Regions from separate parts of the Homo sapiens genome. Here regions 1, 2 and 3 are each reported to be linked to region 4. The links are microRNA targets in miRTarBase. Many come from high-throughput screens and were not tested one by one. Region 4 holds a microRNA gene; each other region holds the end of a gene's coding sequence.

What was found. Region 4 holds the annotated microRNA hsa-miR-1277-5p (AAAUAUAUAUAUAUAUGUACGUAU, at 993-1,016, opposite strand). A microRNA usually pairs through its seed, bases 2 to 8, with sites in the 3' UTR of a target mRNA and lowers its output. Matches are read on the target gene's strand: a 7mer-m8 pairs with bases 2 to 8, a 7mer-A1 pairs with bases 2 to 7 and ends in A, and an 8mer does both.
Region 1: miRTarBase lists MYADM as a target of hsa-miR-1277-5p. Seed matches in the 3' UTR shown: 7mer-m8 at 1,811-1,817 and 7mer-m8 at 851-857.
Region 2: miRTarBase lists FAM120AOS as a target of hsa-miR-1277-5p. Seed matches in the 3' UTR shown: 7mer-m8 at 1,896-1,902.
Region 3: the mRNA of SPPL2A is a reported target of hsa-miR-1277-5p. Seed matches in the 3' UTR shown: 7mer-m8 at 2,520-2,526 and 7mer-A1 at 1,753-1,759.

What each region holds. Positions count from the first base shown.
Region 1 is chr19:53,873,981-53,877,150 of GRCh38, reverse strand. MYADM (myeloid associated differentiation marker) reads right to left here. Exons shown (of 3, transcript NM_138373.5): 3 at 716-3,170. The coding sequence ends at 2,653. Among named protein-coding and RNA genes, the nearest start is that of MYADM-AS1, 6.5 kb to the right of the region's middle.
Region 2 is chr9:93,444,702-93,447,871 of GRCh38, forward strand. FAM120AOS (family with sequence similarity 120 member A opposite strand) reads right to left here. Exons shown (of 3, transcript NM_198841.4): 3 at 1-2,996. The coding sequence ends at 2,910. Among named protein-coding and RNA genes, the nearest start is that of FAM120A, 5.4 kb to the right of the region's middle.
Region 3 is chr15:50,705,160-50,708,329 of GRCh38, forward strand. SPPL2A (signal peptide peptidase like 2A) reads right to left here. Exons shown (of 15, transcript NM_032802.4): 15 at 1-2,715. The coding sequence ends at 2,641. Among named protein-coding and RNA genes, the nearest start is that of TRPM7, 20 kb to the left of the region's middle.
Region 4 is chrX:118,384,247-118,387,416 of GRCh38, reverse strand. MIR1277 (microRNA 1277) reads right to left here and starts at 1,023; the gene lies at 946-1,023. It overlaps WDR44 (WD repeat domain 44), which reads right to left. Exons shown (of 20, transcript NM_019045.5): 3 at 3-77.

The sequences.
Region 1 (3,170 bases), not on the chromosome of region 4:
GACCCAGGGGCTTTGATAGTGCCTATAGGCAATGGGCTACGGAAGGACTTCAGCAGGGAAGGGCAGGATCAGATCTGCATGATGAAAGAATCCCTCTGGAGCCAGGGTGGGATGGAGGAGAAGGAGGCTGGGGCAATAGCTCAGGTGAAACAAAATGGAACTTGAGCTGGACCAGGAACCTGGAGAAGAGGGCGGTAGAAATGGTATTTAGGGGGAAGAATAGACAGTGTTTGATGAGGGACTGACTTGAGTAGACGGGGGGAAGGTACCACCATGTGCTTGGGTTCTCAGCTCTGAGAGGCTATTACTGAAATGGGGGGACCTGGGAGGACGAGGTGACTGGGGAGGAAAGCTCCTTCACTCAAATTAGGACGTTGTATTTGTGAGGTGCTCAGGGGACAGACTCCAAGGAGGGAGAAGTCTAGTTCATTTCTATCCCACCCAGCCCTCCTGGTTTGAGGAAGTCATTTAGAAGACCTAGATCCAGCTAGTATCTTCTGATGAGGCCAAGGTTGTCTTGGCACCAACCCTATTCTCCCACTAGACCCAAGAATCTGGCCCTTGCCCCTCTCCGAGAGTCCTCCCCCGCTTTTCTTTTTTATTTTTTTGTAGAGACGGGGTTTCACCATGTTGGCCAGGCTGGTCTCAAACTCCTGACCTCAAGTGATCCGCCCGCCGTGCTCGGCCGCCCTCCTCATTAAGAAAGCACAAGTCCTTCTTTTACCTTTATATTGATATTTAAAAGAAAAAGAACATGATGGATACGGGAATGGGGGAAGGGACAACGGTTCTACGATTAACAACAGGAACTGATAGGAACCAGAAGCTCCAGGGATTTAAAAAAAAATAAAATATATATTTATACATTTATATATATATATATATATATCACGTTATGTATGTGAGTCCCAGACAAGCAGGAAGCAGCAGCAAGAAGCAACTAGCACACAGAAACACCCGTGCGTGTGCACTACACATTCAAGCAAAGCCATTCCTCTAGCTAGGACGCAGCAATCCCCACCCTCCCACCTACGGGCAAAAGAGAACAGCTGAAAACAAACTTCCCTCTTTAAGGGCCACTCAGTAATTTTTGTCCTCATGGCCAGGAAAAAGAAAGAAAAACAAAACAAAACAGAAAAGGTCGATCTTGCCTTGAAAGCGGGCAGTGGCTATTTTCTTCTCTCTGCCAAAGCAGGACACGTTATTCTTAACACAGAGGGCCACATCGCTGTCCCTCACAAATACTTCAGACAGTTGTCTTCAACATCCTGTGGTTCTTCGTCCGATTCCTTTTTTTTTTTGAGATGGAGTCTCGCTCTGTCCCCCAGGCTGGAGCACAGTGGTGCCATCTTGACTTACTGCAACCTCCACCTCCCGGGTTGAAGGGATTCTCCTGTCTCAGTCCCCCCAAATACCTGGGATTACAGGCGCCCGCCACCACGCCCGGCTAATTTTTGTATTTTTAATAGAGACATGCTTTCACCATGTTGGCCAGGCTGGTCTTGAACTCCTGACTTCAGATGATTGCCTGACTTGGTCTCCCAAAGTGCTGGGATTACAGGCGTGAGCCACCACGCCCGGCCCCGACTCCTTCTTTTTTTTTTTTTTTCTTTTTGATACCACAGAGAATAGTTGGGATGAAAGGCATCCAGCCCCTGCTTCCTTTAAGATGGCCTCTAGGCAGTGGGTGTTCTGTAAGCCTGGCAAAAATTCTGGAGCCAATCTCTGGCAAGGCTGAGTGCCAGGCGGGGCCTAGGGACCCAGGGTCGGTGCTTAAAGCCTCCCGCCCATTGGAAATTACTGACCTCCAAATATATATATATATATGTTTTTTAATTTAAAGGGGAAGTACACTGCACACCTTCCTCCACTGGGAGAAAGAGGGCCCAATCCCCAGCTACCCACCCCCCACCCCCCAAACACACACACACACACACACACACACACACACGTACACACTGACTAAGGCACAGCGAGGGTGGGCAGGCATGCTTTGGCAATGGGGCCCCTTGGGGGGCTGTGGCATGGACGGCTGCAAGGGGTGTGGATGTGAGCTCAGCACCTTTGGAGGTGGGTGGAGGCAAGGAGAGAAAGAAGTCTCAGGGCTCCCAAGGACACAGGAGAAGGTGCTTGCAAAACAGGCAGATAAGAAAGCCGACAGGCAACCCAGAAAAGAGATGAGAAAAAAGAAGAGTGGAAAAAGAGAAACAGGCTGGGTGCGGCAGCTCACACCTGTCCTCCCAGCTACTTGGGAGGCTGGGGCAGGAGAATCGCTTGAACCCAGGAGGCGGGGGTTGCAGTGAGTCGAGATCGCACCACTGCACTCCAGCCTGGGCCACAGAGTGAGAATCCGTCTTAAAAAAAAAAAAAAAAAAAAAAGAAAAGAAAAAGAGAAACAGCTCAGGGGTGAAAACAGGATGTGGGCAACAAAACAACACAGGAAGGAAACAGCAAGAGGAAAGGGAAGGAAGAAGATGCATCCAAGAACTGGTTAGAGTGCAAGGAATTGGGAAGGAAAGAAAAAGGTGGGAGGGAGGGGAGACAGGAAGAGGAAAACAGAGGAAAGGCGGAGGAAAGAAGTACTCCATAAAGAAAACTCGGGCAAGAAGAACAAAGAGGTTGGAGAGGGAACGGGAGCCTCTTGGGAGAGTCTTAGACCTTGACAAAAACCAGGTGGGCAGAGTGCACCAGGTCAGCCACATACGCCAGTAGGTTGATGGCCGTCAGGATGGCCACAGCCAGTCGGCGGTCCCAGGCACACACGTAGTAGGCATGGCTGCGGCTGCAGCTTACATCTCTCGAGCGCCGAGGCTGGCCGCCATACTTCTCATCGAACTGGTAGAGGGGCCAGAGAACAAGGGCGGTGGCATAGAGGAGGACAGACAGCAAGGCCAGCCCCGACAGGAAGCTGGGGAAGGGGATGGGTAGCACGTTGGTGCACTCCCCCAGGTTCAGCAGGATGGCGATGGCCGCTAGGATGAAGCAGATGGCGTACACCGCCACGCACCACTCCAGGGCCGGCTGGTGCTGGTACAGGTTGGGGTCGCTGATGAACGCGAAGATGATGCAGGCAACGAAGGTCTCCAGCACCTTCAGCAGCCCGGGTACGGTGGCCATATAGCCAGTGATCTCGCCGGGCCGGGCCCGGGTCCAGGCCACTTCGGTGGCGT
Region 2 (3,170 bases), not on the chromosome of region 4:
CCTCCCAGGTTCAAGGGATTCTTCTGCCTCAGCCTCCCTAGTAGCTGGGATTACAGGCATGTGCCACCACGCCTAGCTGATTTTGTATTTTTAGTAGAGACAGGGTTTCTCCATGTTTGTCAGGCTGGTCTTGAACTCCCGACCTCAGGTGATCCACCCGCCTCGGCCTCCCAAAGTGCTGGGATTACAGGAATGAGCCACTGCACCCGGCCAGTTCTGCATTTCTTAAGAGAATCTTTGTGAGAAGATGTAGATATTGGCTTCATAATAATAAAGTGAATTTGTGGTATTAAATAAATGGAAAAAAAGACAAACGGTACAAATTAAAAGTTCTTGAGATGTTTGGGCTGACCATGAAGGGATCCATTATCTGAAGAGTGGCTTAAGATTTAGAAGGCATAGCTCTACAGTCTCTTTGTCTTCTAAGGGCAGGGCATCTTCTATCTTCTAGGACAGGGTACAGTAAGTCTTACCAAACATGTAAGACATGTTATTTGGGGATATTCAGCATTCCTTTTCCCTTCCTAAAGGTACTCAGGTTTCTTTCTCAGAAATTGTATATATTCATCCCTGAAAGGTCTGAGAAAAAATAAAAAAAAATTGTGTATAGTTTTGGTGAGATCGTCAATCCAGGAACCTGTTTCCCCATATTAAAGTCAAAGGAACTATACTGTTTTCACTGCCAGGCTGGGGACTCTTAGTACCTAAGTTTGGTCCATTCTACTCTTTTTCATGACTTTGAATCTTGAGCAAATGACTACAGTAAGAGTGGGGTTCATTCATGTCATCAACAGCATCCCAGCTGTATTGTTAAAAGTACCTGTCATTCTTAGTTCCCACCCAGTCTTAATCCTGGTTCTCCAACTTTCATAAAAATCGTTGTTTTTTTTTTTTTTTTTTTTTTTTGAGACAAGGCCTCACTCTGTTGCCCAGGCTGGAGTGCAAGTGGTGTAATCTGGGCTCACTCCAACCTCCACCACCTTGGCTCAAGTAGTCTTCCCACCTCAGCCTCCTGAGAAGATGGGACTACAGGTGCACACCTCACCTGGCTAATTTTTGGATTTTTTGTAGACAATGGGTTTCATCATGTTGCCTCAAGAAAAATAACATCATGGTAATACTAAGTCTTTTATCAGTGACATGTAACTGATTTTAAAATATTATATAGTGCTTCCTAGTTTAACCAAACTGGAGGCATGTTTTATATGATGGGCTGATGTCTCATGAATAACTGTGCCAAAATCCTCACTTCTGAGTGCACTGATGCAGTAGATGGATGTCTCAGATCCCTCAGCTCCCAGATTGGGCCAACTCTCCTTATACCACCACACCTGGGACCTGGGAGGAATGGGGAAGGGGACTTTATAGGGCAGAGCTTTCCCAGACTCTTGTTCCACCCTAAGGATAAAGTATTACAGTAACTTTCTTCCTGCCTTCCAGAGGCACTTTCATTCTTCCTGGAGCTCTCGTCAACCCTGACCTCTTCCTTTGTCAGCAAGGTCAAACGCCTGAGCCACAAGTCTTAGCTGTTTCCAGAAGGGTGATTGTGTGCTCCCACCTATATCTGAGGTCCTAGACTCCTCAGAGGAAGTCAGCTTCATGTGATCTAGGTTACTCAAGCCTGGGGCTAGTGTTTTCATATTCTGGTATGAGAGACTTGCTTCCTCTGGAAAGATCTTTATGGTTTACACAAATGTAACAGACCACTTAACAATAGCTAGTCTCTAAAATGTACATCTTAAAATGGCTTTATACTTACGGGAATTCCTAATTAAAAAAAAAACTCACTTGATTTATATCACATTGTAAAATATAGTTTACTTCAAAAGATGATCCTGAAGATCCCATCACAGAGTGTTTAAGGGATGATTATAAACTTTTAGCCCTTAAGAGAGAATATATATACTCAACTGAGTACTGTCTTTCAAAGCAGTCCCTGTCAGTTTGTCCATTGATTCCATAGCAGCTCTCACTGCCCACCCTGCTTGAGAAGCCTCTTGGAGTTGCCTAGAGAGTCTATAGCACTCATCTGAAGGCCCTCCATGAGAACAACTCTTCTCTTCCACATAGATATTTTTGCATCAGCCCAAAGCTATTTGGACACAAGTTTGGTGAACACGGTAAGAAAAAAACAAACCAAGCAACAAAAACAAAAAGCAGGCAGTGCTGTGTTAGACTGAAAGTAAAAGATAAAAACTCTAAGAACCTATGAAGCGCCAGGGCAGTGCTGGTTGCTTTCACCCATATGGTCTCCTTTGGTGTTCTGCTGGTGCTTATGAAGCAGTATCCCTACTGACAATGACCCTAGCTTAAGAGGGCTGAGAACTGCTGAAAGTGAAGCTGTTTATAAATGGTACAGTCAGGACCGACAGACACATGGGTGTGGTATGACTGCAAAGTACCTGTGGAATTCAGATGGGATTACCATCCCCACTATAAAGGGCAATATGATCTGTTGCAGGAGGGTTTATAGGGTACTTAGTTACACAGGTCACACTGATCCCCTTTTCCTCTTTTTTTCTATGCAAGTATCTATTTGTCTATATGTCTGTCTACCTTGGTAGGTTGGGCTCCTTGAAGAAGGGTTATGTTTTCTTCATCTCCATATCCCCAGTAGCTGGCCAATGCCCAGTATACACCAGGGGCTCAGTCGCTGTTTGTCTTATTTTCTTGTTGACTCTACTCTGACTTAGGACATATCACTTTCCTCTCTTGACCTTCACATTCAGATGTGTTAATAAAAGTGGATAAAGACCACTCTAGCTTTAAAACACCCTCCAATATAGAGAGAACTCTGAAACCAGAAGCAGAAGCTGAGGAATGGTGAATAGAGCATTTTCCCTCACACGATGGGTATCAGGGTGGTTTCTTGTCCTTTCAATGCCTCTGCAGAACTTGACCCTAGTTTTTCAAATTGGACTCAAGAATGATCTTAGTGTTGGTGGTTTTGTGGTTTTCTTTGAGACTTTGTTATTGACAGAACAGCTTCTGGAAATCTGAAAAGAAAAAAAAAAAGGTAGTTTATATATTAGTTTGGAATATGAAATGTATTTTGTCATGGTCTCCAGAGTCCGAATATTGATCTCTGTGGAGCTCTCCTACCCTCTGCTACTGCTGATAACTCATAGTACTGGAGAGATAGCAGAGCCTGAAGACCAAAAAACTCAACT
Region 3 (3,170 bases), not on the chromosome of region 4:
GTGAAACCCCGTCTCTACTAAAAATACAAAAATTAGCCAGGTGTGGTGGCACGCACCTGTAATCCCGTCTACTTGGGAGGCTGAGGCAGGAAAATTGCTTGAACCAGGAGGCAGAGGTTGTAGTGAGCCAAGATCTTGCTACTGCACTCCAGCCTGGGTGACAGAGGGAGACTCCATTTCCAAAAAAAAAAAAAAGAAATTAATTATCTCATTTCGATGTAGTAAAAAAAAAATTTTCTTTAACATTCTTCATAAAATGTGATTAAGGCTATTAAATATAAAGCTTGGATGAGGGTGCAGATAATTTTACAAAACAGCTGTATTTTGGCAAATATTTTATTATTATAAATGAAAATACAGAGTTTTAAAACGGCACTTAATCTGTTCTCTCTCTCAGAGTCTGCCAAATAAATCAGATTTCTTGGAAAATATTCAAACTTGATACAATGGAGGCAAAATTAACTCTTGTCAGGTAAGTCATTTGCCATAAACGAAAGGACCCATAACTGCATTAAGCAGAGAGGGACTGACTGTCAATGAAGCTTCTCTATTTGCAATTTATTCAGCAAAAGCGAACAATTTTTAAAAAGTCTCTAATGCAAAATTTAGTTCAAGTATCAAAGGTCTGATCAATTTTAAAAGGCATTAGTTTTATTTTTAATAAATTGAACTGGCCTTAGATGAAAGATATAGTTCTGTTCACATATTTTATACATTATTTACAGAGAAATGAAAAATCCTGCTGCCTTTGTTATCACTTGTCATTTGCGAAATTCTTACTAAAATAAAAGAAAATGGAAAGATAATTTGACCTCTGACTTCCAGGAGAATGTTCAGGCCACATCTAAAATTTACCAAAGAATGGGGAAAAAACTTTTTTCAAGTTGGAAGGTACCAGAGTGATTAGCTGGTCTAACCTACTCATTTTACAGATTAGAAAACTGAGATATGGCCGGGCGCGGTGGCTCACGCCTGTAATCCCAGCACTTTGGGAGGCCGAGGCGGGCGGATCACGAGGTCAGGAGATCGAGACCATCCCGGCTAAAACGGTGAAACCCCGTCTCTACTAAAACTACAAAAAATAGCCGGGCGTAGTGGCGGGCGCCTGTAGTCCTAGCTACTTGGGAGGCTGAGGCAGGAGAATGGCGTGAACCCGGGAGGCGGAGCTTGCAGTGAGCCGAGATCCCGCCACTGCACTCCAGCCTGGGCGACAGAGCGAGACTCCGTCTCAAAAAAAAAAAAAAAAAAAAAAAGAAAACTGAGATACAAGGTCTTGAGATGCGGCAAATTACTCAACTCTTCCTTGTATTGTAATTAAACTGAGACTAACACCAAGTCTCTTGCTGTTGTTGCCAATTCTTTTCTCTGAACCGCACTTTGTACATCCTCCACCAAGATTAAGAATCATTACCTATGGGAAAAGGGGTGGGCATCAGGAAGAAAAAAAGATAACGGGTGGGAGTGGGGGAATGTGGGATAATGTTAGGAATGCTGTATTCAACGATGAGCCATATGTATTAATACATAATTTCTTAAGAAAAATAATTTTTTTAAAAAATCAAACCTTAACATTAACAGAACCAAATTGCAAAGATCAGAAATACCAAAGTGAAACTGAATGTTAGTACTGAAATTTAAGCTACATTTAAAAAAAAAAGGCTGTCAAACCAATGAAAACTAGATTTCAGTGTCTGTCTCCTTTTAGTGACTAGTTCTATATATTATGTTTCTCTATATCTGGAAAAATGTTCTTAATATAATACACGTGCAGTCTGAAGTAATTTCAGTTCTCAAGTTTATGAAAGGATTGGGTTTAAAAAAATACTACAAAAATATGCACTTATATTTCCAAAATTATGTATTTCTAACCTCTGCAGTGATATAAGGTCCAAATTTTCACCGTTGAACCGCCTTCTTGCATGGTGTTAAACAGTTATTTCTACAGAGCAGATATAATTTGCATAAATCTTTTTTTTTGGGATGGAGTCTCACTCTGTCGCCCAGGCTGGAGTGCAGTGGCGTGATCTTGGCTCACTGCAAGCTCCACTTCCCGGGTTCACGCCATTCTCCTGTCTCAGCCTTCCCAGTAGCTGGGACTACAGGCACCCTCCACCACGCCCAGCTAATTTTTGGTATTTTTAGTAGAGAGGGGTTTCACCGTGTTAGCCAGGATGGTCTCGATCTCCTGACCTCGTGATCCGCCCGCCTTGGCCTCCCAAAGTGTTGGGATTACAGGCGTGAGCCACCGCGCCTGGCCAATTTGCATAATTCTTTACAGTAAAACCCATTCAGAAATAGTAACTACTTGTATCTACCATCAGAGCTGAAAGAAACAGATTTCGTTAAAAAAAAGTATAGGGGTGGGTCAAGGCATTTTTTTTTAGAAAAATATACTGTATATAGTACATCTCGGAAACTACACAGACCATATGTTTTATTTAATGTGAAGGCACAACTTTAACATTAAAAGCAAAGCGTTTTAGTTATTTATGATGTAACTGTCAGTACCAGCTCATAAAAATATATTTTTGCAAGCATATCATTGAAGACTCTTTCAGATTGTCAATTCAAAAGTCAATTTAAAAAGTCGAAGTCTATTTGTAGAAAATCAATGACACATTATAGCAGTTCCACATAATATTATTGCTGGACAATCTGTTCACCAGATATCACAGGGTTTTCTTCATTTGTTGCACAATCCAAATGGTCCATCATCTAGGCATAAATAAAAGACGTTAGGAAATGCAAAATTTCAACTTGCCCCCAATATTCACTACATTAGCAAAAGGATTCTTTTTCTAAAAAACACAGATTGCTCTATGAAACTGAGCACTCCTTCTGGAGCACTGTTCTGGTTCAACATCCACACTTCTAAGGAGATAGTCAGGGTGACACTGAACCTCTCAGGAAGCCTAATCACATGACTCAAAGCCAATTTGTGTTCTCTGGATCTTCCGTTATCTCCATTTCCCAATATGAATACTGCCCTTCATGGCAGTGAGAACTCCAGAACAAAAGGAAGATATTCCTGACACTTATTCCAGGACACTATTCCAGGCAGTGTCCAATCATACAAATGGGAAAACTAAAAATGGCCTCATGAGTCACTGTGAGAATACCTGCTGACTCTGGGACAGTGTGATATTATTGACACCTTGAAATAACCGTAA
Region 4 (3,170 bases):
ACCTTTTTAGACACATCTTGTTTCAATTCTTGTACAGGGGACTCATTTCCAACTTTGTATGCAGTGTTCTCTGTTTCCTGTTTGAAAAAGAAAAGAAATAGAGACCAAATGATGACATCTTTTCTTTAAAAATATGCTTTAAAGGGGTACAAATGAGAAAATGTAGCATTAATAAATCAAAGGCCCTTAAAGGGCTTTGATTTCTTCTTCTTCTTTTTTTTTTTTTTTTTTTTTTGAGACAGAGTTTTACTCTGTCACCCAGGCTGGAGTGCAGTGGCACAATCCTGGCTCACTGCAACCTCTGCTTCCCGGGTTCAAGTGATTCTCCTGCCTCAGCCTCCCGAGTAGCTGGGATTATAGGCGCGTGCCACCACACCTGGCTAATTTTTGTAATTTTAGTACAGACAGAGTTTCACCTTGTTGGCCAGGCTGGTCTTGAACTCCTGACCTCAAGTGATCTACCCACCTCAGCCTCCCAAAGTGCTGGGATTATAGGTGTGAGCCACTGTGCCCAGCCTAAAGGGCTTAGATTTCTGAATACTGATAGATGCTCAGAAATTTTATGCCAAATGGGACAATGTAATTTGCATAAGAAAGTTACCCATCAGCAATATTCTATTATTCTGCAATAGGATATTTACCTTTAAATGTGAAAACTTGCTCAACTTTTTAACATTAAAAAACTGTAATGGACGATAAGAACTTCTACGTACTTTTATAGCTAAAAAGGATTAAGGATTTAAGCAAGGGGCTGAATAAAAATTGTTATTTTCCCCAAAGCATTGCTCCATAAATATGCACAAATACAAAAGTTTATAACACAGAAAACCACATTCAGGGAATAGTTTTCTTAAAATTCTACATGCTTTAGATAAAAGAAATCAAGACTTAACCAGAAGTTAAATGAAGCCCCTAAAAAAACTATGAAAAAAGATGAAAAAAATTAAACCCACCAAAAATACATATATATCTACGTATACATTTATATACACATACGTACATATATATATATATTTGGGAGGTTAGAAATGGATACTGCATTTCTGCTGGAAAAAATTAGGGTAAAATAAGACAATCATATATTTGCAAATCTCAATACAATACTCTTCTCAATCTTAAGTTGTCTATTTATAGAAGCACAGCAATTTGAATGCTACTCTTGATACTGAGGAAAAAAAACCATAATTCTTTGTGCACATCACAGAGTTTGTTAGAGGAAGGTCATTATAACCATTTTAGACAGATAAAGGACTCAAGGCACATTAATTATTTAGGTGGCACTTATACAAGTATCAGGATATGATCACAATAGGCTCAATAATGAAATTACTCCAGAGATTATTAAAATGTTAAAGATTTAACGTGCCAGTGAAATTTCTGTAGGACTTGCAATATCTTCGAGCACTGAATTCCTCCCCCAGAATTTGGAGAATACTACCAATCTTACACAGATTCTTCTAGAAAAAAAAAAATGTTTCATGGACTCTTAAGTATTAGATAAAATCCAAACAGTACCAAGGCCCATGAAGGCCTAAACATGACATAGCCTCTGCCTACATTTTTGATATCTTCTACACTCCTCATCTCCCTCTCATATCACTCCCCCACAATTACATTCTGGCCAATAGGATGATTCCTTGCCATTAGGGTCATAGCTCAAGTGCTATTTTATCAGAAAATACTTCCCTGACCATCTCAAAATAGCCTTAGCTGACTCCTTAACTTTCTATCACATTATCCTATTTTTCTTTTTTTTTTTAACTTTAAGTTCAGGGGTACATGTGCAGATTTGTTACACAGGTAAACTTGTGTCATGGGGTTTTGTTGCACAGATTATTTCATCACCCAGGTATTAAGCCTAGTACACATTAGTCATTTTTCCTGATCCTCTCCCTCCTCCCACCCTTCACCCTCTGATAGGCCTCAACATGTGTTGTTCCCCTCTATGGGTTCATGTGTCCACATCATTTAGCTCCCACCTATAAGTGAGAACATGCAGTATTTGGTTTTCTGTTCCTGCATTGATTTGCTAAGGATAATGGCCTCCAGCTCCATCCATGGCCCTGCAAAGGACATGATCTCGTTCTTTTTTATGGCTGCATAGTATTCCATGGTGTATATGTACTACATTTTCTTTATCCAGTCTATCATTGATGGGCATTTAGGTTGATTTCATGTCTTTGCTATTGTGAATAGTGCTGCAATGAACATGTGTGTGCATGTGTCTTTATAATAGAATGATTTATATTCCTTTGGGTATATACCCAGTAATGGGATTGAGGAGAGGATGTCAAACTATCCCTGTTTGCAGACAACATGATCTTATATCTAGATAACCCATAGTCTCAGCCCAAAAGATTCTTAAGCTGATAAACAACTTCAACAAAGTCTCAGGATACAAAATAAATGTGCAAAAATCACTAGCATTATTATACACTAATAACAGCCAAGCAGAGAGCCAAATCAGGAATAAACTCCCATCATTTGCAATTGCCACGAAAAGAAAATACCTATGAATACAGCTAACTAGGGAGGTGAAAGGAGAACTACAAACCACTGCTCAAAGAAACCAGAGATGACACAAACAAATGGAAAAACATTCCAAGCTCATGGATAGGAAGAATCAATATCGTTAAAATGGCCACACTGCCCAAGGCAATGTATAGACTTAATGCCATTACTATTAAACTACCACTGAGATTCTTCACAGAACTAGGAAATTTTATTTTAAAATTCATAGGGAACCAAAAAAGAGCCTGAATAGCCAAGGCAAATCCTAAGCAAAAAGAACAAAGCTGGAGGCATCATGCTACCCGACTTCAAACTATGCTACAGTGCTACAGTTACCAAACAGCATGGTACTGGTACAAAAAGAGACACACAGACCAATAGAACAGAATAGAGAATACAGAAATAAGACCGCACACCTACAACTATCTGATCTTCGACAAACCTGATGAAAACAAAGAATGGGGAAAGGCTTCCCTACTCAATAAATGGTGCTGGGAAAACATTATCCTATTTTCCTTCATTGCACTTATCGTTCGAAATGACCTTATTTACTTGCTTATTTTTTGTCTCTTCCCTGTCCCACTAGAATGTAAGCTCCATGAGAGATGGACCTTGTTTGTTCTATCTACAGTTTGTTCAGTACCTAAAACAGTGTCCAG